3 linked regions of the Homo sapiens genome follow. The protein of the gene in region 1 purifies or fractionates together with the protein of each later gene. This does not show direct contact. Each region holds a gene or a part of one and is shown in the gene's direction. Other genes may lie near its edges.

What was found.
Region 2: the proteins of DRD2 (region 1) and MSRA purify together in Homo sapiens (affinity purification with mass spectrometry; 2 studies listed by BioGRID and IntAct, with this or other methods). This does not show direct contact.
Region 3: the proteins of DRD2 (region 1) and COLEC12 purify together in Homo sapiens (affinity purification with mass spectrometry; 2 studies listed by BioGRID and IntAct, with this or other methods). This does not show direct contact.

The regions. Positions count from the first base shown.
Region 1 is NC_000011.10:113,471,968-113,480,520, reverse strand, and holds the start of DRD2 (D(2) dopamine receptor), read left to right. Parts: upstream 1-5,122; 5' UTR 5,123-5,445; intron 5,446-5,784; exon of another isoform or gene 5,785-6,291; intron 6,292-8,553. UniProt on the Homo sapiens protein: Dopamine receptor whose activity is mediated by G proteins which inhibit adenylyl cyclase. Positively regulates postnatal regression of retinal hyaloid vessels via suppression of VEGFR2/KDR activity, downstream of OPN5.
Region 2 is NC_000008.11:10,049,437-10,057,291, forward strand, and holds the start of MSRA (mitochondrial peptide methionine sulfoxide reductase isoform a precursor), read left to right. Parts: upstream 1-4,855; 5' UTR 4,856-5,080; coding exon 5,081-5,222; intron 5,223-7,855. UniProt on the Homo sapiens protein: Has an important function as a repair enzyme for proteins that have been inactivated by oxidation. Catalyzes the reversible oxidation-reduction of methionine sulfoxide in proteins to methionine.
Region 3 is NC_000018.10:497,308-505,105, reverse strand, and holds the start of COLEC12 (collectin-12), read left to right. Parts: upstream 1-4,404; 5' UTR 4,405-4,591; coding exon 4,592-4,598; intron 4,599-7,798. UniProt on the Homo sapiens protein: Scavenger receptor that displays several functions associated with host defense. Promotes binding and phagocytosis of Gram-positive, Gram-negative bacteria and yeast.

The DNA.
Region 1 (8,553 bases):
ATGGCACAGTCTCGGCTCACTGCAACCTCCACTTCCCGGTTCAAGTGATCCTCCTGCCTCAGCCTCCCAACTAGCTGGGATTACAGGAGCCCACCACCATGCCCGGCTAATTTATTTTTAGTGGAGATGGGGTTTCACCATGTTGGCCAGGCTGGTCTCGAACTCCTGACCTCAGGTGATCCACCCACCTCGGCCTTCCAAAGTGCTGGGATTACAAGTATGAGCCACTGCGCATTTTAAGTGCATAGTTCAGTAGGATTAAGTACATTCATGTTGTGTAAGCATCACTACCGCTCCACTTTAGAGCCAGCCTCGATCTTCCAAAGTACCGGGATTACAGGCGTGAACCACCACGCATTTTAAGTGCATAGTTCAGTAGCATTAAGTACATTCATATTGTTGTGTAAGCATCACCACCACTCCACTTTAGAACATTCTTCATGTTCTCATACCGAAACCCCATACCCATCAAATATGTCCCCATTTGTCCCTGCCTCCAGCCTCTGGCCACCACCAATTCACTCTCTGTCTCTGTAGATTGACTCTAGATACCTCATATAAGTGGCATTGTACAGTATATGTCCTTTTGTAACTGGCTTATTTCACTTGGCACAATGTCTTCGAGATTCCATGAGGTAGCAGGTGTGAGAATTTCTCTCCTTTGTTAAGACCTAATAATATTCCTTTGCATGTAAATACCACATCTTGTTTATCCATGTTGATGGACACATGGCTTGTTTCCACCTTTTGGCTATTGTGCATAGTGCTGCTATGAACATAGGTGTGGAAATGAGGTGTATATTTTTATGACCTCTTCCCATCAAGCAATTAAATTTCTAATATGAATAATTGCACTCTGAGTTATCTGTTCTGTAACTCTGAAGAACTGTGTAACAGAATTTCTTAAAGTGAGTCATCCCTGTATTCTCTTTACTCTTTCAAAATAGGAGGCAGCAAAGAACAAATGTCCATTTCACACCCAGGTGGAAAGGCCCATTAGAGTCTACCAGTGAGGAAATCATTTTCTAAGGGTGATTACACACGCAGATGTCAAAACCCTCAGGTAACTCTCTGCTCTCCTGCCTTGGTTGGACAGTGCCCTGAACTTCTGTCCTTCTCAGAAGATTCTCCCCTTGCCCACCCTTCTCTGGGGTCTACCATCTCGACTACCTTCAGTCCCTTCCCTAGATTATCCTACATGGGGCTGTAGATCCCTCAATAACAACAATATCCAAGAATTCCACACCTCTCTAAGGTTTTCTGCATTTGAGGGATGTAATAAAGTACAAAAGAGATGATTTTTTTTTGCCCCATACTTCCTTTGACCCAGATAGATTGATGTTCTACTGCTCCCCAAGTCATTTGCAAATGGCACAAGAACTAAGACAAAAGAAGAGGATGAGAAAAGAGAAATTCCAAGAGCTTGGAAATGGGGGCTCAGTTTTTATCTACAAAGTGGGTTAAGAAATGGAGAACTGTAACACCATATAGAAGATGTCTATATTTCCTGCGTCACTTCTCCAGTTGAAGTTTTCTGTAAGGGGGGAAGACCCATGGAATATCAATATGTGTGGGCTGTCGTTCCCACTTATTCTTCATGATAGCACTGCAATGTGGCTCTCCATCCCCATTTCACAATCCAGAAAACTGAGCCCCGGAGCCATTCAGAATTTCCCAAGGTTGTGGAGTTTAGATGGGAACAAACTTCTGTGTGACTCCAGTGTTGCTACTGACATGACCCCGCTCTGCCTTCCCCACCTTTCAGATGAGAGCATTTCCCTTGTTTTCTGTGAGATGATTTTTAGAAGGGGACTGTGACAGTCTGTTCTCTCTGGGGGTACATCAGAGTTTGAAGGAGATCAGCAAGGGTCCCCCCTCTTTCTAAGCTGCAGCGAGCAGTTCTTGGAGCTCGGGAGGAAGTTCTAGCTCTCCCTTATTCTCTGTTGGCTTTCTCCTTTGTTTCTCTTACAATGGGCCAACAAAACCCCCATCTGTCCCTAACTCATTTCCTAGCCCTGCCTGAATGTCTTTGCTCCCCCCAATTCATATGTTGAAATCCTAAGCCCCAGGATTATAAAATTAGAAAGTGAGCCTGTAATCCCAGCACTTTGAGAGGCCAAGGCAGGCGGATCACCTGAGGTCAGGAGTTCGAGACCAGCCTGAGCAAAATGGAGAAACCCCATCTCTACTGAAAATACAAAATTAGCTGGGTATGGTGGCGCATACTTGTAATCCCAGCTACTCGGGAGGCTGAGGCAGAAGAATCACTTGAACCCGGGAGGCGGAGGTTGCGGTGAGCCAAGATAGCACCACTGCACTCTAGCCTAGGCAACAAGAGCAAAACTCTGTAAAAACAAAACAAAACAAAACAAAACACAAAACAAAACAAAGGGAAAGTGAGGCCTTTGGGCAGTGAGGAGGTCATGAGGACAGAAGAAGACACAGCCCTCATAAATAGGATGGATGAGTCCCCTTGTAAAAGAGGCCCAAGAGCACTCATCCACCCCTTCCACCATGTGTGAACACAGTGAGAAAGTACCATCTATGAAACAGAAAGCTGGCTCTCACCAGACGCCAACTCTGCCAGCACCTTAATATTGGACTTCCCAGCCTCCAGAACTGTGAGAAATAAATTCTGTTTGTAAACCACACAGTTTACAGTATTTTGTTATATTAATAGCATCCCAGATGGACTAAGACAACCCCTAATACCCACTACTACTTATTTCCTTACAACTTTCAACAATGAAAAGGGTAGAAATAAATGAAAGATTTAGGAGGTACATCAGGTGGAACTTCCTGACTCCAAGGAGGTAAAGAATTCAAAGAGGCTGTTGTAGATCCTTTTTCAGGAAAGCTATAAGGCAAAGGGACACCCTGCCCCCACCCCGCCCACTTGGACTGGGCACACTCCTGCCTAGAGGCAGGGGGAGGCACCAAACGACCTCCAGAGGGCCCTGCTAGCCCAGGAAGCTGGGAGCCTCTGGTGCAGCCGCTGCTTGGCCGCAGATGTTCCCTGTCATCAATCACACAGTGCATCTGTTTGCTGTGCCGCTTGTTTAAAGAGTGAGGCGTTTGCTAATTGAAAACTAAAAGATCCATCCGTCTCACTCACAGCCAGCATGAAATCCACTCAGCCATGTAAGATTGGGGTAAAAAAGGCAGCGCAGAGCTACAGTGTCCTTGGGTGGGTGCACCTTATGGAGCTCATCTTCTTCCTGCTTCTGCCTCCTGATGAACAGGGCTCCCCTCCCCACCCCAGAGCAGCCAGAGATGGCCCATATTACCATTGTCTAACATGTCCTCATCTATTTTTCTCAGTAAAGCTCAGAGATCGTTATTTTTAGTCCCCACTTAAAAATGGAGAAACTGAGACTTCGCGAGATCAAGCAATTTAGGCAAGCCCACACAACAGGTAGGTGACCAAGGCGGGACACCAATCCAGGTGCTCTGGCTAGTCTGACCCATCCCTGAACCTATGTAGAGGTGCTGAGTTGGGAGGTACCAAATATCTCCTTATGTGGATTAAACCTAGGAAAGAATGGTCCAAGGGTATACAAGGGAAACACTGGGATGTCAACCATATCTGTAATGGCTGATCCCTTAAAGGCAATTATGGCAACATTCTAGGACTCCTATTGGTGTAATATCTCCCTATAGAGCCTGCAGGCAAATGGAGGCCAGTCCAGATCAGCAAGATCCAGGGGCAGGAGCTGGGAAGAGTCATGGTGGGGTGAGGTGGGGAGCCCACAGCTTCCTCTGCTCCCGTGCCTCCAGAGATGGCTGCATTTGAGAGAGGTGCTGTTTTGTGCCTCTGGAGAGGGGGACGGTTCAGTGCTGGACTCTGTGGGATTTGCAAGGACACTCCATCTCTCTGGGACTCAGTTCTCCCTTCTGAGGTGAGGCGGAATTGGATGAATGTTAAGGTCCTTTCCAGCCCTCACTTTCTATAATTGTGTGTGTCATTGGAGGAAATGCTGAGATGAAGTTAATCCTTGTGGCCCAGAGAGGCTGGATTCCAGCCATGCAGGGCCGACTCCCTGCTCTGCAGAGTCAGTCCTCTGCCCCTGCTCTTCCCTCTCCCTGGAGTGTTGTGCCACCTTCTCCCCTTGGGAACTGGTGTTGCTCCTTCAATGCCCGGTTCCTGTAAAGTCTCGCTTTTTTGTGCTTCACAGCACCTGTTTAAGCCTCAGTTATTTCCCTGGGGGTCCCCTCTCTGGATTGCCAGGGTGCGGGATCAGGGGCCTGGTTTTCTTTCTGTGTGTGACTTCTGAATCTGACACAGAATCTGGCAAACTGAGGACAGTTGGTAACTAATTGCTGCAGAAGAAAGAAAAGAAAGAGAAAGAAAGAAAAAGAAAGGAAGGAAGAAAGAAAGAAAGAAAGGAAAGAAAGAAAGAGAAAGAAAGAAAGAAAGAAAGAAAGAAAGAAAGAAAGAAAGAAAGAAAGAAAGAAAAGAAAAGAAAAGAAAGAAAAGGAGAGAGGAAGAAAAGGGGAGAAGAACGAGGTTCCTCTGCAGCCCAAATGACAGTGGGCAGGGTAGCAGCGGAACACCCTTCACCACTCTATCTCTTTCTCCCTCTCCCCACTCCCTGCCTCACACACCTCAGTTTGGAGTCAAGGGTGAGCTGGAACCCCTGAGGCCTCCTTTTGCATTTCCATGTCAGGTCAACTCCAAACAGGCTTTTTCCTTTGGATGAGTCCAGCAATAGAACTGACTACATAGATTCCAAGACCTGAAGTCAGAAAACGGATGCGGACCTCTTCCAACACCTCCTCTCCTTGCCTGACTTGCTGGATGGGTGGTGCCTCCCGCAACCCTTGGCTTCTGAGTCCTCAAAGGAGAAGACTGGCGAGCAGACGGTGAGGACCCAGCCTGCAATCACAGCTTATTACTCTGGGTGTGGGTGGGAGCGCAGTGGGCGGTCGAGGGTTGCGTTCCCGCCTCAAAACAAGGGATGGCGGAATCCCCCAACCCCTCCTACCCGTTCAGGCCGGGGATCGCCGAGGAGGTACAGCTCCTTTGGTGGGGGGCGGGGGCGGGGCCTGTCTCAGGGGCGGGGACCGGGGCACCTCCCTCCCGCGCTCCCCGCGCTCGGGCGCCGCAGAGCTGTCCAGCTTCAGTGCCGAACCGGCAGCCTCACGCGCGCACCGCGCCGCCTCCGCCCCGTCCCCGCGCTCCCTCCTGCCCGCCCGCCCCGCGCCCGGCCCCGCCCCGCCCCGCCCCGCCGCGGCCCGTCCACTGCTCCCCGCGGGCCAGAGCCGGCCGAGCTGCTGCCCGCCGGGGCTCTGAACGGCGCGGCGGGGCCGGGAGCCAGGGACCGGCCGAGGAGAGTGGCGGCCCCGGACGGCTGCCGGAGGGGCGGCCGCGCGTGGATGCGGCGGGAGCTGGAAGCCTCAAGCAGCCGGCGCCGTCTCTGCCCCCGGGCGCCCTATGGCTTGAAGGTAAGCACCGGCCGGATGGAGCGGCGGGCGACTCAGTGTCACGGGGAGAGGAGGAGGGACCTCCAAGGGGAGCGAGGCCAGGACCAGAAGTTTGTGCGGCCACTCCTGGCCGCCTGCTCGGGAGCGCCCGCCTGGGATCCGGCTCTGCATGGGCTCCCCGTCGGGCGGGGGCAGAGGGCGTCTGGAGCCCGCGGCTGCTATCCCCTCTCCCTCCTTCTCAGTAGCCTCCTCGCCACTTAGAAGGGAATCCTCTCCCCGAGCACGAGCGGGCGCAGCTGGGGCAGCCTCCCCGCGGGGCGCCCAGGGCAGCACGGCGGAGCCGCGGCATCGGAGGGCGGGAGGGAGGCCGCTCCCCACAATCTCGGGAGGGCACTTCCCCCAGCACCCAAGCGCGAGACCCGGGGCTCGCGGCCAGAGTTTCCGACTTCTTCCGGAGGAAGAAGGGCTGTTTTTGGCAACTCTGTGTTGGTGCGACCTGACCCTTTTCAGTTTCTAAGGCAGAAGCTAAGGATGGGGGAGAGGCAGATTCTGGCTGGATTCTCCCGCTCCCACGGTTGCCGCTGTCCTTGGTCCTGAACTTTCGTTCTCCTTCGCCTTCTCTTGGGTTGACACCTAGTCGGGGAGGGAGGCTTGGGTGCCAGACCCGTTTCTACCCGGCAGTGCAGGCGACGGTGGCGGCAGTAGCGGAGGGTGACCGCCCGGCTCTCGGCCCGGCTCTATGATGGACCGAGAGCCCCTCTAGGGTGGTATGCGGAGACAAGAGACACCTCTAAGCACCAGACAGAGCGCTTCCCTATCCCTGTCTGAGGCGGGCAGCCCTTGAGTGCTTCCTCTTGAAGAGCAGAGGTAAGAGGGTGCGTGTGCGTCTACATAACAGGCTTCACCATGGACACAAGTCACAGCAGTGCAGCTCCGTGGGGACAGGCGCTTGCTCTCAGCCACAAGGAAGCTGTCTGAGCAAGTCACTGTTGCCCCACCTGACACCCCACTACTTTTTTTTCGGTGGCTCTTGAGGTTGGGTGAGGGGGTGAGGGAGTGAGGTGCAAGGCACTTTGTGGATCCCACTCCAGATCCTTCTGCAGATCCAAGCCTTTCTGTATTTTGACCAGGCTACAAACCTTTTAGGCCAATCCTTGCTCCTCCTTAGGGAGCTAGATGTTCAACGATTCTCCCCACTCCCACCCTGCTTCAAATGCAAATATGCATGCTTATCTCTGATTCATCCTGCAGCATTAGGACCACTTGAAAAAGAAATCATGCTTATCGTCTTTCCCTCATGCAGCTGTTTGATGAGGGTGGCCAGATAGAGAGACTGTGGTCAGCATGACCAGTTTCAAGAAAATCAGCAAGCTGCTTTCCTGGGTTTCAGTCCCTGCCTTGGACTTCCCTCCTTAGTGTTCAAAATTCCTGGATTATTTGTTGCAGGGGGTTTTGATGCCATCTCTGAATGCAGACATCTGACAAGGAAGTGGTTTGGGAGGGTTAGACCTAGAACCAAATGAGGGCCAGGGTAGTCCCAGCTCTTAAAGATCATTGAGTTCCTTCTACCTTCCCTGCACAGCCTGAGGTGCCCAGAAAGTGGAGAGGTTCTGATTTGTTGTAGAAGTCCGGGCAGCATTTCTCTAAGGGTTTTTTTCTTTTTAATGAATTCCCTGAGAAGCTGGTTAAAAATGCGTATTTTTGCTTCTTCCTTGAAAAACTGCTGAATGAGAATCTCAAGCGGAGGCCCAGGAAATTTATATTTTAACAATGTTTCTGAGTGATTCATGTGTACACTGAATTAGCAAATTACCTCCCAAAAAGTTGAGACTCCTTAGAGAGTCTGTATACATTTATTTTATTTTGAAAATGGAAATCAAGTTTATTTTACATAAAATTGGTAGCAGGTATTCTATCTGAGAAAATCCCTTGAAGATATAAAAATGCATTTCTAAGAGTTAAAAGAATCATGTACCTTGGCAACCATTTGCTGATATCTTAAATATTCCTAAATTTCATACATTTGAAATTTATAAAATTAAGGTATTTAATCTCACCCTTTGTCTCCTGCTGTTATACCTGTTAAATTCTTCAAGTGTGAGACTCTTGGTAGAAAGACCATCCCCCTGATTAAATCTTTGCTGAAATTAAGGATGCAATCCAATCTCCTCTCCCCCAGGATCTTCCTGGGCTTTTCTTCTTTCTAAAATTTTTGGCCCTTTTAAGGAATCACCAATATGGCTTCAGGTTGACTTATGTAAATACTAACTGTCCCTCTATGGGGGTCAACTCAGTGTTTCCCTCCTGCCCTCCCCTCTGGGTGAGTTATTGTCTTTCATTATGCATGTGCTGTGATCTGTTAACCTAAGTGCTCCTGAAATGCCAAGGAGTGATTAGTTCAGCCTAGTAGCACGTCATGCTCCCCAAGGCTGGTAGCCACTCATGCCCTGCTGGAAGTGACATATTGACTGTATTGATTTGGTTCTTTTGTTCCATAAGCAAGGAGGCTTGTAGGGGTAAAAAGGCTAGTAATGATGCTTGTGGGCTAGTTAGTCTTGTACCTTCACCTACAAAGGTGGATTATTTCTGTCTAGAAAATGCAATTATCTTGAGAATGATATAGGAGAATCTGAAATTGAGACAAACGCTTCTGTTCTTTCTTTGATACTATGGGAAACAAATGGGAACTTAGGGTCATTAGAAATATGGCCTCACATACTCCTGAGATTGTCTTGCTGAAGCCGGACTGGTCTGGGGTCACCATTCTCTGAATAAACAAGTATAAGGGGAAAGACGTGGGGACTCTGCCTGGAGAGAATGGTTTCCATCTCCCCTGCAAGTAAAAGTTACATTTTAGTGTTAACAAAAAAGTGTGGCTGTGAAGATAGCACTGTGTGTATGTGTATGTGTTTGTGTGTGTTTGCATACACGTGCATGCACACATATGAGCACATCGCCCAGGAGAGACAGATATGATGAGACTTCCTTGAGCCAATCCTGTGTTGGCACCCACCACTTCTCCCCGCTTTGTGGCTTAATACCTATGAATCTCCAACAGTGAAGGTGCCTCAACACCTAGGAAGAGAGAAGAATCAAGTTGAGGTTTTATAATGCCAGAACCCTAAGTCA
Region 2 (7,855 bases), on another chromosome or scaffold:
TCTAGAGGCATGTTTATTGAGGGCCAGGATATTGGGTGTGGGTTCCACCAGAACAATAAATCTCAAAGTTTGCTGCCTGGACCAGCAGCGTCAGCATCACCTAGGAATTTGTCAGAAATGCAAAGTTTCAGGGCTAACTCAAACTACTTGATCAGAAACTCTAGGATGGGACCAGGCAATCTGTTTTAATAAACCCTCCATGTGATTCTGGTGTATGCCGATGTCTAAGAACCATTGAGCCACTCAAAACCCTAGTGGCTTACACACAATAAAAGCTCCATTTCTCACTGTCTCAGTCTATCAGGCTGCTATAAAAGAGTCCCACAGACTGGGCAGTTTAGAAACAACAGAAGAGTTTTGAAGTTTAGAAGCCACTGAACTGCCTTTGCACCTTGGTTGAAAATAAACTGACCATGTGTGTGCAAGGTTTTTTTTTTTTTTTTTTTTAACTGTTTTGTTCCATTAACCTATGTCTCTTGTGGTCAACACCACACTTTCCTGGATATCATAGCTTTATAGCAAATCTTGAACTCAGGTAGCCTCCTGCTGTCCTATGGAGGTGGAGGGAGGGAGGATGGGAAGACCTATGAGTACTGACTCAAAGTGGAGAAATGTCTTAACAACTCTCCTGCACCCTGTCCCCCAATACAGAGGCCTCCAAATGAAGGTTTCTGGGCTCAAAATGCAGATATAATGATAAGCATGGCTGGCCTGGGGTAAGGCCTGAGTCCTTGACTGCAACTTCCTTCAGAGACTGCAGTTCACTGCCTGTGCTCTACATCTGGTGTGAGTAGGGCAGCTTTCCCCTCTAAGGTCTGCTAGGCAAAGCCTTTACAATTGCCATGGTCAGCCGTGATTTTGGACTGGAACTGGACTTCTCAGTTTTTGGCTGTAGTAGGTCCTCTGCATTTGCATCTGAGTTTTAGAATAAGCTTGCCAATTTCTACTAAAAAACCTGCTGGAATTTTCATTGAGACAGTGTTGAATCTATAGGTCATTTTGGAGAGCACTGGCATTTAACAATACTGAGGCTTCGGATCCACCTACATGGTATAGCTCCACATTTATTTAGGTCTTTTACATTTCTCTTAGCAATGTTTTGCGGTTTTGATGTGCAGGTCTAACATATCTTCAGTCAGATACAAATTTTAAATATTTTTGATGTTAATAAATAAGTAGTATTTTTAAAATTTTGATTTCCATTATTTTGTCTTATAGAAATACGATTTTTGCATATAGATTTTGTAGCTGCAATGTTGCTAAACCAGTATTAGCTCCAGATTTTCTGTAGAGACCATGACATTAACCTAAATTATGTGGTATTAATTAACTGACAGGCAGCACAGGTATTACAGGTGAAAAGCTGGTGACCAAGCCCCTCCTTTTTTTTTTCCCCCGCCACAAGACATTTGATAAAATTGTCAACTCAGTACCTTAGCAGGCAGACTACCTGCTCTTTGAATCTGTAGTAGCAGGGAAAATGGTTGGGAGTGAATCTCTGGGTCAGTGAGACAGTACTGCCTTCTTCCTGTCTCTTTAGCAAAGTACTTTGAGAAAGATGAACTCAGGTAAAAACTAGTCATTTTGTTAACAGAGCTGGAAGGAAATAAAGTCATACTAAGATGGAGTTCTCTGCCTGTAGTCTGCAATACAAATTGACTGAGTGGTGATTTCAAGCCTTCTAGTTCTGATAAAGCCAAAAGCTATTACACTTCTGACAGTGTAAGATAAAACTGTGACCCAAGGCACTTCTCAAAGGCCATCAGCAAAGTGTTCTCTGCTGGACAGTGGAACCCAGACAAGCAATAGAGGTCATATTAAGGGCACTGCCTTCCTAACCATGACTGCTGTTTTTGCTGGGTGCAAGCATATAGCCACTAAGTTAGTAGGTACAGGAGATATGAGAGAGTCTCGTAAATAAAAATGAAGAGTAGTTAGGCATAAGAAATATGACTAATTGAGATCTCTATCTGTGGTTATTTGTAAAAGGAACTATACAAGGAACAAACAGATAAGAAATCCATTCGGTATCTTTTAAAAATTGAATTGACAAAGAAGCTATTAAGCCTAGCTTGCCAATGCCTGTGTCTATCTGACCCTACTAAAGTAACCCACAGTCCCTCAAAAGCGCACCAGTAAGAAACTGGATATAAAAAGATGTGTAGCCTCTCATGGAGCACACTCTTTAGCATGCCCTTCAGATGGAATCATAGATCATGGGTAAGAACCTCCCAATGGGTAAAGACAGTACCTTTGGATGCAACAAACCAGAGTTCCTCCTGGAAAACAGAACTGGGGTCTAACCAAGAATTTACTTCATTACCTTTGTAGTCTAATCTGCTCTTCACATTCGCTTAGACAAAGAACTACTATTTTGTCCTCACTCTTCTTCCAAATTAGTTTTCGTGCCCTACTTCACCACTGCATACTGGCTGTGTGGGGAAGAGAAAGGGGAATAAATAACATAATTTACTCTGTAGGTCATTGGACCATGAGGAGTTATATCAGACTTGTAAGGGACTGTTACATCTTTAGATCATGGACGCTGAGCTGGATGCAGTAACTGCTTAGAATGCTGGGTTTTCTCTCTTCAAACAGGGTGTGTTCTATGTGTCACAAGGGTATCCATGGATATTTGAGGGGCCAGAGGAGTAGATTGTGTCACAGTTGTCCAAAGAACATTCCTGTTTTATTATTAGAACTGCCAAATATCCAAGTATTAGTTGTATCTATAGTCACTCCGCAAGAGAACCTCATCTCCCACCTTCCCAAGTTAGATGTGGCTGTCAGATCAACAGCGACATTAGATTCTCATCAGAGGACAAACCCTATCGTGAACTGTGCATGTGAGGGATCTAGGCTGCACACACCTCATGAGAAGCTAACTAATGCCTGATGATCTGAGGTGGAACAGTTTCACCCCGAAACCATCCCCCATCTCCCCTTCCCCATCTGTGGAAAAAAACTGTCTTCCACGAAACTCGTCCACGGTGCCAAAAAGGTGGGGGACCGCTGGATTAGGGGGAATGTCTGAAGAAAAGGAAGTCCTAGTGGTGAAAAAGGCACCACTGAAGGCAAAAATGTTCAATTCTTTCCTCAAAACACCAAAGAAACTAATATAACTTTTCTTGCAGCTATTCTGGTAAACGAAAAACCCTTGTTTTTGAAATAAGATATATCTGTTCTTTAAAAATGCTTATTCTTTTATAATTATAAAAGTAACAGCCATTGGAATACTCGAGAACGTTGTAACAATACAGAACACTTAAAACAGTTTAAAGACAATGAAAAGCAGTAGAATCCCACTATTCTGAACAAAAAAAATTGCATTTTTTTCGAATTGTTCAGTGGCTGTGCAACTGGGAGTACATGCATTTTCATATATACTACATGTATACACGCACACTGCATTTGTTTTACTTTTTCATTTAACATCAAAATTAATTTTTTTTTTTTGAGACAAGGTCTTGCTCTGTTGCCCGGGCTGGAGCACAGCAGTGTGATCATAGCTCACTGCAGCCTCTACCTCTCTGGCTCCAGCGTTCCTCCTGGTGCAGCCTCCCAAGTAGTTGGGACCACAGGTGTGCGCTACCACACCACCATGCCCAACTACTTAAATACCTTTTTTTTTTTTTTTTTTGGTAAAGATGGCGTCTCAAACTCCTGGCCTCCAGCAATCCTCCTGCCTCAGCCTCTCAAAGTGTTGGGATTACAGGAGTGAGCCATCATGCCAAGTAAGTTATTTCTTCACACTAAACATTCTTCAGCTCTTAGTTGCAGAGTATTTCTAGCATGTGAAACTTCATACAATCAACCACAAAACACAGACAAATCAGTATGTATCAAAAAGAAGTAACTGAAAAACACAAAATATTGTCTTTGACAGAATGACTATTTTTTCAGACCCTTAATAGTGACCAGGCCTTCGCAAGCCTAGAAGGGACTCCTGGGGGTGTTTTCATGAAAGGCCTGTGGAACCGACTTGGTATAGCCTCATAGCAATAACAAACAGTTTAGGTATCATTTTGTCCAGGGGAAATACAAATTACAAAATCAAAGCTAGAGCCTTTTTAGTGTTGTATGCCTGGCAACACACCTCATTCTACACTATAGCACTGCTAAGCCTCCTGCCCTCCTTACAGTCCAGACCACATGAAAACAAAGTGGTAACTAAATCCATGCAAGAAGCTGGGTGAAAGCCTCCTTTCTGTGGGTGCTAATCTGAAGTTCCCTCCCTCATCTGAGACGACCTGCCCATTTTGGCAGAACATGTGTTAAGCCAAAATCTCACACAGATGAACTCCCAAGTCACTCACCTCGCTCCAACCACTTTACATTTAGTTTGAGAATGTCACAGGAACAAATGTCATCTCCTATGATTTGAGAAACAAGAATAATACAACACCACCATTAAGTCCACCTACACTGCCTTAATGGTGCTGTTGGTGCCTTGCTCCCGTATTTTGGCCGCTGCAAAATGGGCTTAAATATGTTTGTAAATACATAACTTAATATTGAATTCATCTTCCCTATTCCGCGCATTTTGAGAACTGTGCTTAGTTTTCACTTTGGACGAATAGCAACCCTTCTGATGGCCGTCATGACAATGTCTCCAATAAAAACTGACAGTCTAGCTGGCTGCAAGGCAGGTCCTCTTCTATCTTACTGGGCACTGCTAAACTGCGAAGTCGGGGCGACACGGCAGCAACTTTAAAATCAAACCGCATCCCCAAGGGCTCGGCGTGTTTTTTGGCCTCTGCAGCTTCACGTACTTCGTACGACAGGAGCGCACTTGTTCTCTGTCCGAGAACTTCGTCCCGAGAGAACCTCAGGAACTCGCCGGGCCACACCCCCTGTCCAGGGAAGGAACACGCCCCCGGTGACAGCCGGTACGGCCCCGGGTTTGGGCAACCTCGATTACGGGCGGCCTCCAGCCCCGCCAGCAGCGCCCCGCGCCCGCCCGCCCGCGCCCCTGCCGCCCCCCGGTTCCGGCCGCGGACCCCACTCTCTGCCGTTCCGGCTGCGGCTCCGCTGCCGGTAGCGCCGTCCCCCGGGACCACCCTTCGGCTGGCGCCCTCCCATGCTCTCGGCCACCCGGAGGGCTTGCCAGCTCCTCCTCCTCCACAGCCTCTTTCCCGTCCCGAGGATGGGCAACTCGGCCTCGAACATCGTCAGCCCCCAGGAGGCCTTGCCGGGCCGGAAGGAACAGACCCCTGTAGCGGGTAAGCACTGGCCACACGGAAGGCGCGGGCGGCGACGCTGCGCATGCGCGCCTTTGCCCGGCGGCAGCGCGCCCGCTGCCCGGAAGGAAGCCGTGGGCTGGCCTCGGGCGGGTCGCGGGGTGGGGGTCTGCGCAGGCGCGAAGGGGCGCCGGCAGTGGCCGGGGAGACGCTGGGGTCCACTGACGTCCCTTTGTCTTTGTTTGGCTCGTCATCTTCTGGAGCCAAACTGGGCATTCTGAAGGAATCTAGTGCATCGGTCTCACTTACCCGGAGTGCATACCGTCGCGGCCCCAAGTTTTGGGCAGGAAATGTGCCGCTGGGGTCTGGCCTTGCTCGCGGGCGCCCGCGGCGCTGTGCCTGCGCCCTCCTTTCTTGTCTCCTCTGCGCCGGCCGCCGGGACCCAGGGCACCTGCAGCGGGGCTGGTGCGAGTGTTGTCCCGGGAAATGCCGGAATGAGACGAGACGATGAAAACCTTAAGTGTGGAACTGCGTCTCAGGCCAGTGTTCTGGCTGAGTCACCCCTAGTCACCCCTCGTGCCCTAGGTCGGCCCCGCTGTCCCCAGGGGCAGGGGCTGCCGTATGCTGGGTCAGCTTAAAGCGATGCTCCACAAACTTGGACAACTTTCTAGTCGTTCTCACATCAGTACTTTGGGAAAATACAATAAGGGTGAAATACTAGAAAAATGTTCACGTGCTTCGATGCCATGTAATGGTAAACTGCTATAAAAGTTTTCAAAATCTTGGCAATTTCTGCTGCAGACAGCACGCGTTTCCCAGAACGAGGGCCACACGTTAATATTACCTTAGTGCAGCGCTTCTCAGAGTGCCCCCACCTGCCGCAGCAGCAGCAGCATCACCACCTGGGTGGGCGTTCCCCCATTACTGAATCGGAGACTCTGGGGGTGGAGCCCAACAATCTCTAAAACAAGTCCTCCAGGTGATTGTAATGTACGCTGTAGCTTGTAAACCACTGCCTTAGAGCTGTTGGAGGATTAAGTGATGTTTAATCTACACATGGCTCAATGCCAGAGAAATTCAGCATTTAAAAAATTTCCTTAGAAGTTTCTTTTTCTTTTCCTTCAAGAATTGTTGAGGATAGGAGGAGGTCATATTGAGAGTTTGTCATCTCGTAGAATAATCAGTATGAGATTAGAAAAGGTAGAGGTTTTTTGGATTAGAGGCAGTTTAGAAATCGTGTGACTGGCTTATTATTAATCGAATTAGCAGTTTCTGTTTCCTGGTTTCCCCATCATTTCACCTGCTACTCAGCCGTAAAAGTTTATTTTTGATTCAAATGCAGAGATTGAGTTTTGAAACAAATCTAGATTAGTAAACATCTATACTTATATATAGATTTATAAAATATAACCAGATTATCTAAAACTTATAAATGCATCTTAAAATTTTTTCTTTCTTTTACAGGCAGGAATTTATACGTGCATGTTTAAAGGCGATACTTTTCAAATGCCAGACTTCCTCAGCTTGTGCTATACTTCCCGTTCACACACTGCCGTGTCTTTGCTATGCCCTCCCATACACCAAAAAAAAAAAAAAAAAAAAAAACCCCAAATAATCCAAAAACTCTTGTTCAGATTTCCAAACTGGTTCAAGGTCAAGATGGACCAAAATTTACTTTGGCTTTATCTTAACCAAAGTCTTCCCAATCAGTTTCCTAATATGTAAATGACATTTTTGGTAAAAGATGAGCAAACATTTCAGAAATGAGCCAACAATTTTTTTCTTATCCCCATCATAACTTTTAACTGCAAAACCTCAGGACCTGGTTCTTTTCCAGGCTCTGCTGTCTCCATATAGCTGTGAGTGTTTTTGGTACACCAACACATCTCTGTATCTGGGCCAGTAAACTTTTTTTTTTTTTTTTTGGTGTAGGGCCAAGCCTACAATGCATATGTCCTTATTGTTCATCTATTGTAACTTTTTCCACAAAAAGTGTGTGAAATTTAGATTGTGGACGTTCCAGTCTCCACTTCTGAGCCTTGAGAGGTTGCTGAAAGCCCTGACTGGCTCCAGAAATGGGCAGTGTTACCTCTTCAGTGGGTTTCAGTAGCTGTAAACTTGAAACTTAAGGATTTAGTATTGTTCTGAATGTGGAATTCACCTCCACTGCAACTTGGATCCTGTTTAACAACTCCTCCCTTCTCTATATTACCTCCATCCATGTCTGTTCTTATTTGTACCCTGACCCTCAAAAGTTGCGTGACAAAAGCATCACCTTTTGACTGCAGAAGGCCTGTTTCTTTAGTGCGTTTAGATAAGCCTAGTATCAGGTGTGTACCATTACCAAATACTTGAGGTGTTAAGGATTACCATCTTAGCGTTCATCCTACCATTTTTATATTCTTAAGGACAATTCCACCCTTTTACACACTGTGACCAAGATTTCCACCTTGCAAGAAGGAAAGAGTCAAACCTTCAAAGTTTTTCAGTGTTTAATTTATCCCAGGCTACCTAAAATGGATGAAAACATGAACAGGCCTACTTGGGTGAGTGGTGAAAACTGAACCTGCCCTGGACTGCCTCATTTGCAGCCTGCTGTGTTCAGGTTAGGGGGCATCTGGGCAGTGCTGGCTGGCTGGTAGGGCACACGGCAATGTGTCTTGCCCTGTATGTGG
Region 3 (7,798 bases), on another chromosome or scaffold:
CTGTGTGTTGGAGCCTGGAGTGGAGAAGGTGCCAAGGTGGGCGTGGGGAGGCCCTTTGGAAGGTTAGTGCAGCAGCTCAGATGGGCTATGATGGCCTCTACATGGGGGATGCAGTGGAGATGGAGAGACAGAGAAGTTTGAGATGTATTTCTAAGGTAGAAGCAGGGCTTGGTGAGGATGTAGAGTTGAGGGAGAGGGAGGAGTCAAGGGTGATTGGGCTTTTTCATCAGTATAAAGGTGATACTAGCATGGGGCTGGGGTGAGGGGAAGATGAGATGATGCTTCCTCCAGATTCTGAAACTTTAGTCTGAATGCAAGGCCTGGCTGCTGCTTCTGGGGGTGGGGAAGCTTGCCTGTGACCTGGAGGACCTGCAGGCCATCTTTGAGTTCAAAGCATCTTCAGCTCCATGGCTCAGTCCTTTCCAATCACATTCTTCTCTTCTTTCCTTTTCCCTTCTTTTCTCCCTGATCCCCAGCTCAATTCTCAATTCCTCCCAGAGCTCTTGACCAGAGAAATCCTGATCAGCTGATGATCTGCATGTGACCATGACCTTCCGTCTTCATATCCTCCAGAGTGGGGCTCAGAGGAGGCTCCACACTGAGGACCTGTGGGGCCCAACTCACTCTGTGCTGAAGGTGACAGGGTGGGGGGAGGAAGGCACTCATCCAGGATTCCTTCTTTTTTTAGAGATGGGTTTCACTCTGTTGCCCAGGCTGGAGTACAGTGGCATGATCCTAGCTCACTGCAGCCTCAAACTCTTGGGCCTAAGCAATCCTCCTGCCTCAGCCTGATGAGTAGCTGGGACTACAGATGCATGCCACCACACCCAGCTGATTTTTAAATTTTTTGTCTCACTATGTTGCCCAGGCTGGTCTTGAATTCATGGCCTCAAGTGACCTTCCTTCCCTGGCTTCCCAAAGCCCCGGGATGAGCCACCGCACCTGGTCCCAGGACTGTTCCTTAAAATTATCCTTAGAAAAGTTGCTAAGCCTGTTTTCTCATCAGTAGATCTATGAATCTGGCTCATTATCACAGCTGACATCATAGCCTTAGGGGTTTCTTGTTTGTTTTTTACCTTATCATTCTTCTGTTTGAATTTTTTTATTGTAGTCAAATATATATATTTATCATCTTAGCTATTTTTCAGTGTATAGTTCAGTGGCTTTAAGTATATTCACATTGTTGTGCAACCATCACCACCATCCATCTCCAGAATTCTTTTCATCCTGCCAAATGGAATCTTTGTGCCTGTGAAACAACTCCCCATCCCCCCCCCGGCAACCACCATTCTACTTTCTATCCCTATGCATTTTACTCTCTCTCTCTCTCTCTTTTTTTTTTTTTTTTTTTGAGATGGAGTCTCACTCTGTCGCCCAGGCTGGAGTGCAGTGGCGCGATCTCGGCTCACTGCAACCTCTGCCTCCGGGTTCAAGCGATTCTTCCACCTCAGCCTCCCAAGTAGGTGGGACTACAGGTGCCAGCCACCATGCCTGGCTAATTTTCGTATATTTAGTAGAGACAGGGGTTTCAGTATGTTGGCGAGGCTGGTCTCAAACTCCCGACCTCGTGATTGACCTGCCTTGGCCTCCCAAACTGCTGGGATTACAGGCGTGAGCCACCACGTCTGGCGGCATTTTACTCTCTTTTATAAGTAGAATCATATTGGTCCTTTTGTGACTGGCTTATTTCACAAAGCATAATGCCTCAAGTTTTATCCGTGTTGTAGCATGTGTTAGAATTTCCTCCCTTTTAAAGACTGAATCATATTCCACTGTATGGCTATACCATATTTTGTTTATCCATTCATTCAACAGTGAACACTAGGTTGTTCCACCTTTTGGCTATTGTGAGTAATGTTGCTATGAGCCTGGATGTACATCTATTTGTTACCCTGCTTTCACCTCTTTTGGGTCCCAGAAATAGAATTCCTGGACTATATGGTAATTGTGTGTTTAATTTTTGGAGAAATCACCATACTGTTTTCCATAGTGGCTGTACCATTTTACATTCCCACCAGCAATGCACAAAAGTTCTAATTTCTCCGCATCCTCGCCAACACTTATTTTGTTTTGTTTTTTTTTTTAAATAGCCATCTTACTGGGTATGAAGTAGTAGCTCATTGCGGTTGATTCAAATTTCCCTGACAATTAGTGATTGAATATCCTTCATGTACTTATTGGCCATTATATGTCTTCTGTGGAGAAATGTCCATGTCAGTCCTTGGTTCATTTTCAAATTGGGTTGCCTGTTTTGTTGTTGTTGCTGAGGTGCAGGAATCCTTTATATATCCTGGATATTAATCCTGTATCAGATATAGGGCTTTTGCACATATTTTCTCCTATTCTGTGGGTTGGCTTTCCACTCTGTTTATACTGGCCTTTGAGGCACAAAAGTCTGATGAAGTACAATTTATCTATATTTTTTCTTTTGCTGCCTGTACTTTTGGTGTCATATTCATAATTTGGGTTTTAAAAACGATTTTTTTTTTTCGGCAGGGCGTGGTGGCTCACGCCTGTAATCCCAGCTCTTTGTGAGGCTGATGCCTGCGGATCGCTTGAGGTACGGTTTGCGAGCAGCCTGGCCACCATGGTGAAACCCCGTCTCTACTAAAAATACAAAAATTAGCTGGGCTTGGTGGCCCACCCCTGTAGTCCCAGCTACTTGGGAGGCTGAGGTGGGAGAATTGCTTGAATTCAGGAGGCAGAGGTTGTAGTGAGCCAAGATTGTGCCTGGGCGACAGAGTGAGATTCCGTCTCAAAAAAAAAAAAAAAAAAAAAGAAAGAAAGAAAAAAAAGAAAGCCGGGCGCGGTGGCTCACGCCTGTAACCCCAACACTTTGGGAGGCAGAGGTGGGCGGATCACGAGGTCAGGAGTTCGAGACCAGCCTGGCCAACATAGTGAAACCCCGTCTCTACTAAAAACACAAAAAAATTAGCTGGGCCTGGTGGCACACGCATGTAATCCCAGCTACTCGGGAGGCCGAGGCAGGAGAATCGCTTGAACCCGGGAGGTGGAGGTTGCAGTGAGCCGAGGTCACGCCATTGGTTAGTAAACTCCGGGCTGAAAATTCATATCCTAAGCTCCCTTCAGGGATCCCCATTTGCCCTGAAAGACAAGGCTGGTGCCCCAGTGAGATCTGAAACATGCTCCAGGACCAGGACCCTGTAGTTTCATCAACTGCAGACAGTGCGGGGGAAAAAGCATTTCGGTCTTTTCATTTGTTCGTCATGTTCAAGGTGCCCCCTTATGTTAAAAAATTAAAAAAAAAAAAAAAGAAAGAAAAAAGAAATCTCCTGGAACGGAGAATCTATGAAATGTTTCAATATGTATTCATTTTGGGGCACTACCTTTTACTAGAGCAAAGAATCCCCTACTTAGAGGGAACCAATGGATTGGTTACACCGTGTTACCAAGTCCTCAGGAGGGCAAACTGAAAAGCTGCAAGCACTGCCCGGCCAGTGTTCGATTGCTTTTGGTGGACTAGTGCGTCTGAGTAGCCATCTGTAATGTCAACATGTGGCAGAAAGTTTCTCCGCACCTCCCTCGCCCCAGCTCCACTCACCACTTAGTGTATGTTTTAAAGCAATAAAGCGATGGGTCTGCTTAGAGGGGGTTCTAAAGAGAAAGATAAACACGGGCTTTATTAAGTATACAGCAGGGCAATGTGACGGGCGACCACGAAGGGAACTCAGGGAGCCTCTCAGCAGCCCGGCCTCCTTTCGTAACAAAACTGGAGTCAACCCGATCATTTTAGGGGCGCTGGGTGGAAGGCTGGCTTTTCCAGCCAAGGCAGGATGTGCTGGCTTTTTCTCTGGAGGTGTCCAAGAGCGCAGAGAGAGTGTCTAATGGTGACTTCGGATTCTGGCCACTCGGGCTCTCCCTGGGTGACAGAGAGAGTGTTCCCTGCTGCTTGGTCTCCTTCAGGCGTCAACCAGCGCACGCACTTGGAAACTCTGAACCCGGAGGACGTTCTGTACCTCTCCATGCCCCAGAGCCGTTTGGGGAAGGGCCCACCTTACCCCCCGCCACCCCCGGGGCACAGCAGCTCCCCATCCTCTCGCCCAACACTTGCTAGGTAGTTTGGGGTGTAGAAGCGACCCCAGCAGCAGCGGCACCTTAGGTGCTCGCCGAAGGTGAACGCTGGACCGCCCCGGGAAGGGCTTTGCTCCCGACTTCATCCCGACGCTGGTGCAACGGGAAAAAGAGAGAGCCCGCGCGAGTGGGGCCAGGGCGCGCAGGAGAGGGCGGGCGAGAAAGTGCCCGGCGAGGGCAGGCGCGGGCCGAGGGCGGGGCGGGCGCGGGAGGGCGCGAGAGGGGCGTGGGCGCGGCCGCTCGCTCGGCCGGGTCGGGCCAGGGGGAGGGGCGCTGGGAGAGCGAGAGCGGCGCGCGCGGCAGCCCCGAGGCAGCAGAGCGCGGAGCCGGGAGCGCGGGGAGCGCGGGCCGGCGGCGGCGAGGGAGGACGGGGGCGCAGACGGCCGGCGCGCGGCGCGGCTACCATGGGCGTGCGGTGAGCAGCCGCTCGGGACGACTTCCTCGGCTGCGCGGCGCTCGCGCGGAGCTCCCCGGCCGGCGGTGCGTCCCCACGGTCACCATGAAAGGTAGGGCGGCGGCAGCTCCGCGGGGCTCTGGGCGGGGGGAACGGGCTTCGGGGCGCGCGGGAGGCCACGGAGGTGCCTCCCGCGCGAACCTTCCCTTGGGCTGCGGGCCCGGGGAGTCGGGGCTGCCAGGGCGCCGGGTTCGTGCGCGGACACTGGGGGCGCACCCGGCTCCCGGGTCAGGCGCGGCTGGAGACCTCGAGGTTGGGGTTTTGAAGCGCGCAAGTATTCCCCTCCCCATCGCGTCTTTGCAAGTAGTTTGAAGCCCTAAGTCGTTGTTTACGGATTCCCGTTTCCAACTTTTTAATTGAAAAAACCTGCCGAGGAGAGTGGAGGCATCGCCATCCCTCCCGGTCGCTTTTCCACGCCGCAGCGCTCCCCACGCTCGCCCAGTCCTCTCTCCTCCCGCCTCTAGCCGTTTCCCGGCCCGAGCGGTCCCCGCGCTGGCGGCCGGGTGTTTTCTCCGGGACTGGGGATGTTCTCCGTGCGCCCTCGCCACATCTGGCAATGATTAGGTGCCCGAGGAGTTCAGCTGGCTCGGGAAGTGCATTTGGCATCTTTCTCCATCAGATTCACCGACTGGAAAATAGTTGCCCTCGGTTCCGCGTCCCTTCCACGTGCCCGCCTTGGGGTGTGCCCACTGGTGTTTTGGGGTGACACACCTCAGCTGGTTAGTCGCCCCCTGCGCGGTGTCCTCTGCAGGCCGGTTTATGGAAGTGTCAGATGTTATCGTACTTTAGAAAGAAGCACGAGAAGGACTGCAGGGCAGCCTTCTGTTTAGTGGAAACACGGAGATTTGTCAGCGGAATCCTGATTTATGTATGAGATAAGTAACCGCAGCGGAGGCATCAAAGAGTCGTTCAGGAATGGGCCCGCGTGGTGTTTACACAAGGCTTCGTGTGAGAGTTGCTGGTTCTGTGCTAGGATAACACAGCCCTGCGTGGGTGCGAAATGCCATCTGACCGCGGTCACCCCGCTTCCAGCCGCCACAGACCTGGCGATGCAATCGCTTTGACTTCTAGGGTTGCCGTCCGAGGGAGGCGCCCGGGAAGCCCCAAGGCGCTTGGAAAGTAACTTTTGGCTCTGGAAAGTTTTTTTTCTGAAGGGCAGCTCCCGCGGAACTAACCGGAGCGATGATATCCTACCAATTCACTCCCTTTCCAAGGGCGTTAGGTGTCCACGTCGGGAGACCTCGGGAAGGGAGGTGACTGATGGCCAGGTGAAAAGTGGTCTGCCCCAGGGAAAAAGAAACAAAAGACACGATACAACTGCCTACCTAGAGAATTTCAAAATGCAGTGGCTTGCTTTCCTTCTGTCTCCATCTCAGTTTCTCTTCCCTCATTTACATTCTAGGAAATACACACATTCCTTAGCTGGCTCTGATTGAGGAGACTCCCTAGAAAGGAAAGAATTTCACATGGCTAAAAGTTATCTGGGGCTCAGTTATCATTTTAGCCAGAAGTGAATCTTCTCTGCTGGTCATTAAGACCAGTGGTTTTTAAAACTTGGGAAGATTAACCACCTACCCACTCCATCAGCTCCCACGTGGGTTCTTAAACCCTGAAACTTTTGTTATGCTTTTTACTGGGTAAAGGACCGCTATTGCACTTGAGACACTTTTCCACTTTACATTTGCACTGGAAAACATACCCAGAAGTCCTAAACACATTTTTGGAGAGATTTATGCTGCATTCTGGACCAGATGGTGGCCTACCCGCTGTGGTCTAGCGCTGCCCAGAAGCCCCATACACTTTCCGCCCCAGTCGGGGAGGTTGATGGAGGGACGGACTGGTGAATCCCCGGGTAGACTAATCATTTTGAAGCCCTCTTTTAAAAACGAAAATATTCCAGCGGGGCGCGGTGGCTCACACCTGTAATCCCAGCACTTTGGGAGGCCGAGGTGGGCAAGATCACTCGAAGTCAGGAGTTCGAGACCAGCCTGGCCAACATTGTGAAATCCTGTCTTTACTAAAAATACAAAAAATTAGCTGGGCGTGGTGGCAGGCACCTGTAATCCCAGCTACTTGAGAGGCTGAGGCAGGAGAATCACTTGAACCCAGGAGATGGAGGTTGCAGTGAGCCGAGATCGAGCCATTGCACTCCAGCCTGGGTGACAAGAGCGAGACTCCGTCTAAAAAAAAAAAAAAGAAAAAAAATATTCCATGAGAGTTTTGCCTACCAATTATTACCACGTAATCTGTATTTATTACATTTGTCTGAGTGGTGGGGTGGGGACGGGAGGGGCAGTAATAATTTTTTAGTACCTACTAAGTGCCAGCCACTGTACTATATACACTACAAACACATTGCAATTAATCCTCTCAACAGCCCTGAGAGTAGACATTTCAATCCTAACAGTATAGGTATGAAAACTGAGTCTAGAAGAAATAGGAACTGGCAACTAGGAGGATAGAGTAGGCATCTAAAGACAAGCCTTGTCAGTTACCCCGTGTGGCTTGGAAGGCCCTAAGACACCAAATAGATAACCTCTGGTGAAGATGACTGGAAAAAAAAGTGAATCTGAGACAACTAACTAGCCAAGTAACCCACAATTGGTGCTGTATCCAGGAAGAGGTGGAGCCAACCAGTTGCATGTGAGGCTTTGGAAGCCTAGACAAAAACGGAAAGCTGCTTTTACCAAGTGGAATTGTTTTGACCATTTGCCATAGGGAACCAACTAAAGATTTTCCCCGGGTTCCTGATTACATCAAATAGTTGTTAACTCCCCGTGCTTCAGAAAGCCAACATGATAGAAAGCAACGACAAGCCTTGTAAATTCTTAGAATAAACGTGTTAATCTAAAACATTCTTGGCCAGGTGCAGTGGCTCATGCCTGTAATCCCAGCACTTTGGGAGGCTGAGGCAGGCGGATCACCATATAGTGAAACCAGCCTGGCCAACATGTAATGAAACCCTGTCTCTACTAAAAAATACAAAAATTATCTGGGCCTGGTGGCGCATGCCTGTAGTCCCAGCTACTTGGGAAGCTGAGGCAGGAGAATAGCTTGAACCCGGGAGGTGGAGGTTGCAATGAGCCGAGATCGTGCCACTGCACTTCAGCGCAGGTGACAGAAGCAAGACTCTCTCAAACACACACACACACACACACACACACACACACACACACCCCATTCTTTAGCCAAATTGAAAATCAGTGGACACCATAGAAGTTAAAGAAGTTCATTTGCAAAAGCAAATATTCC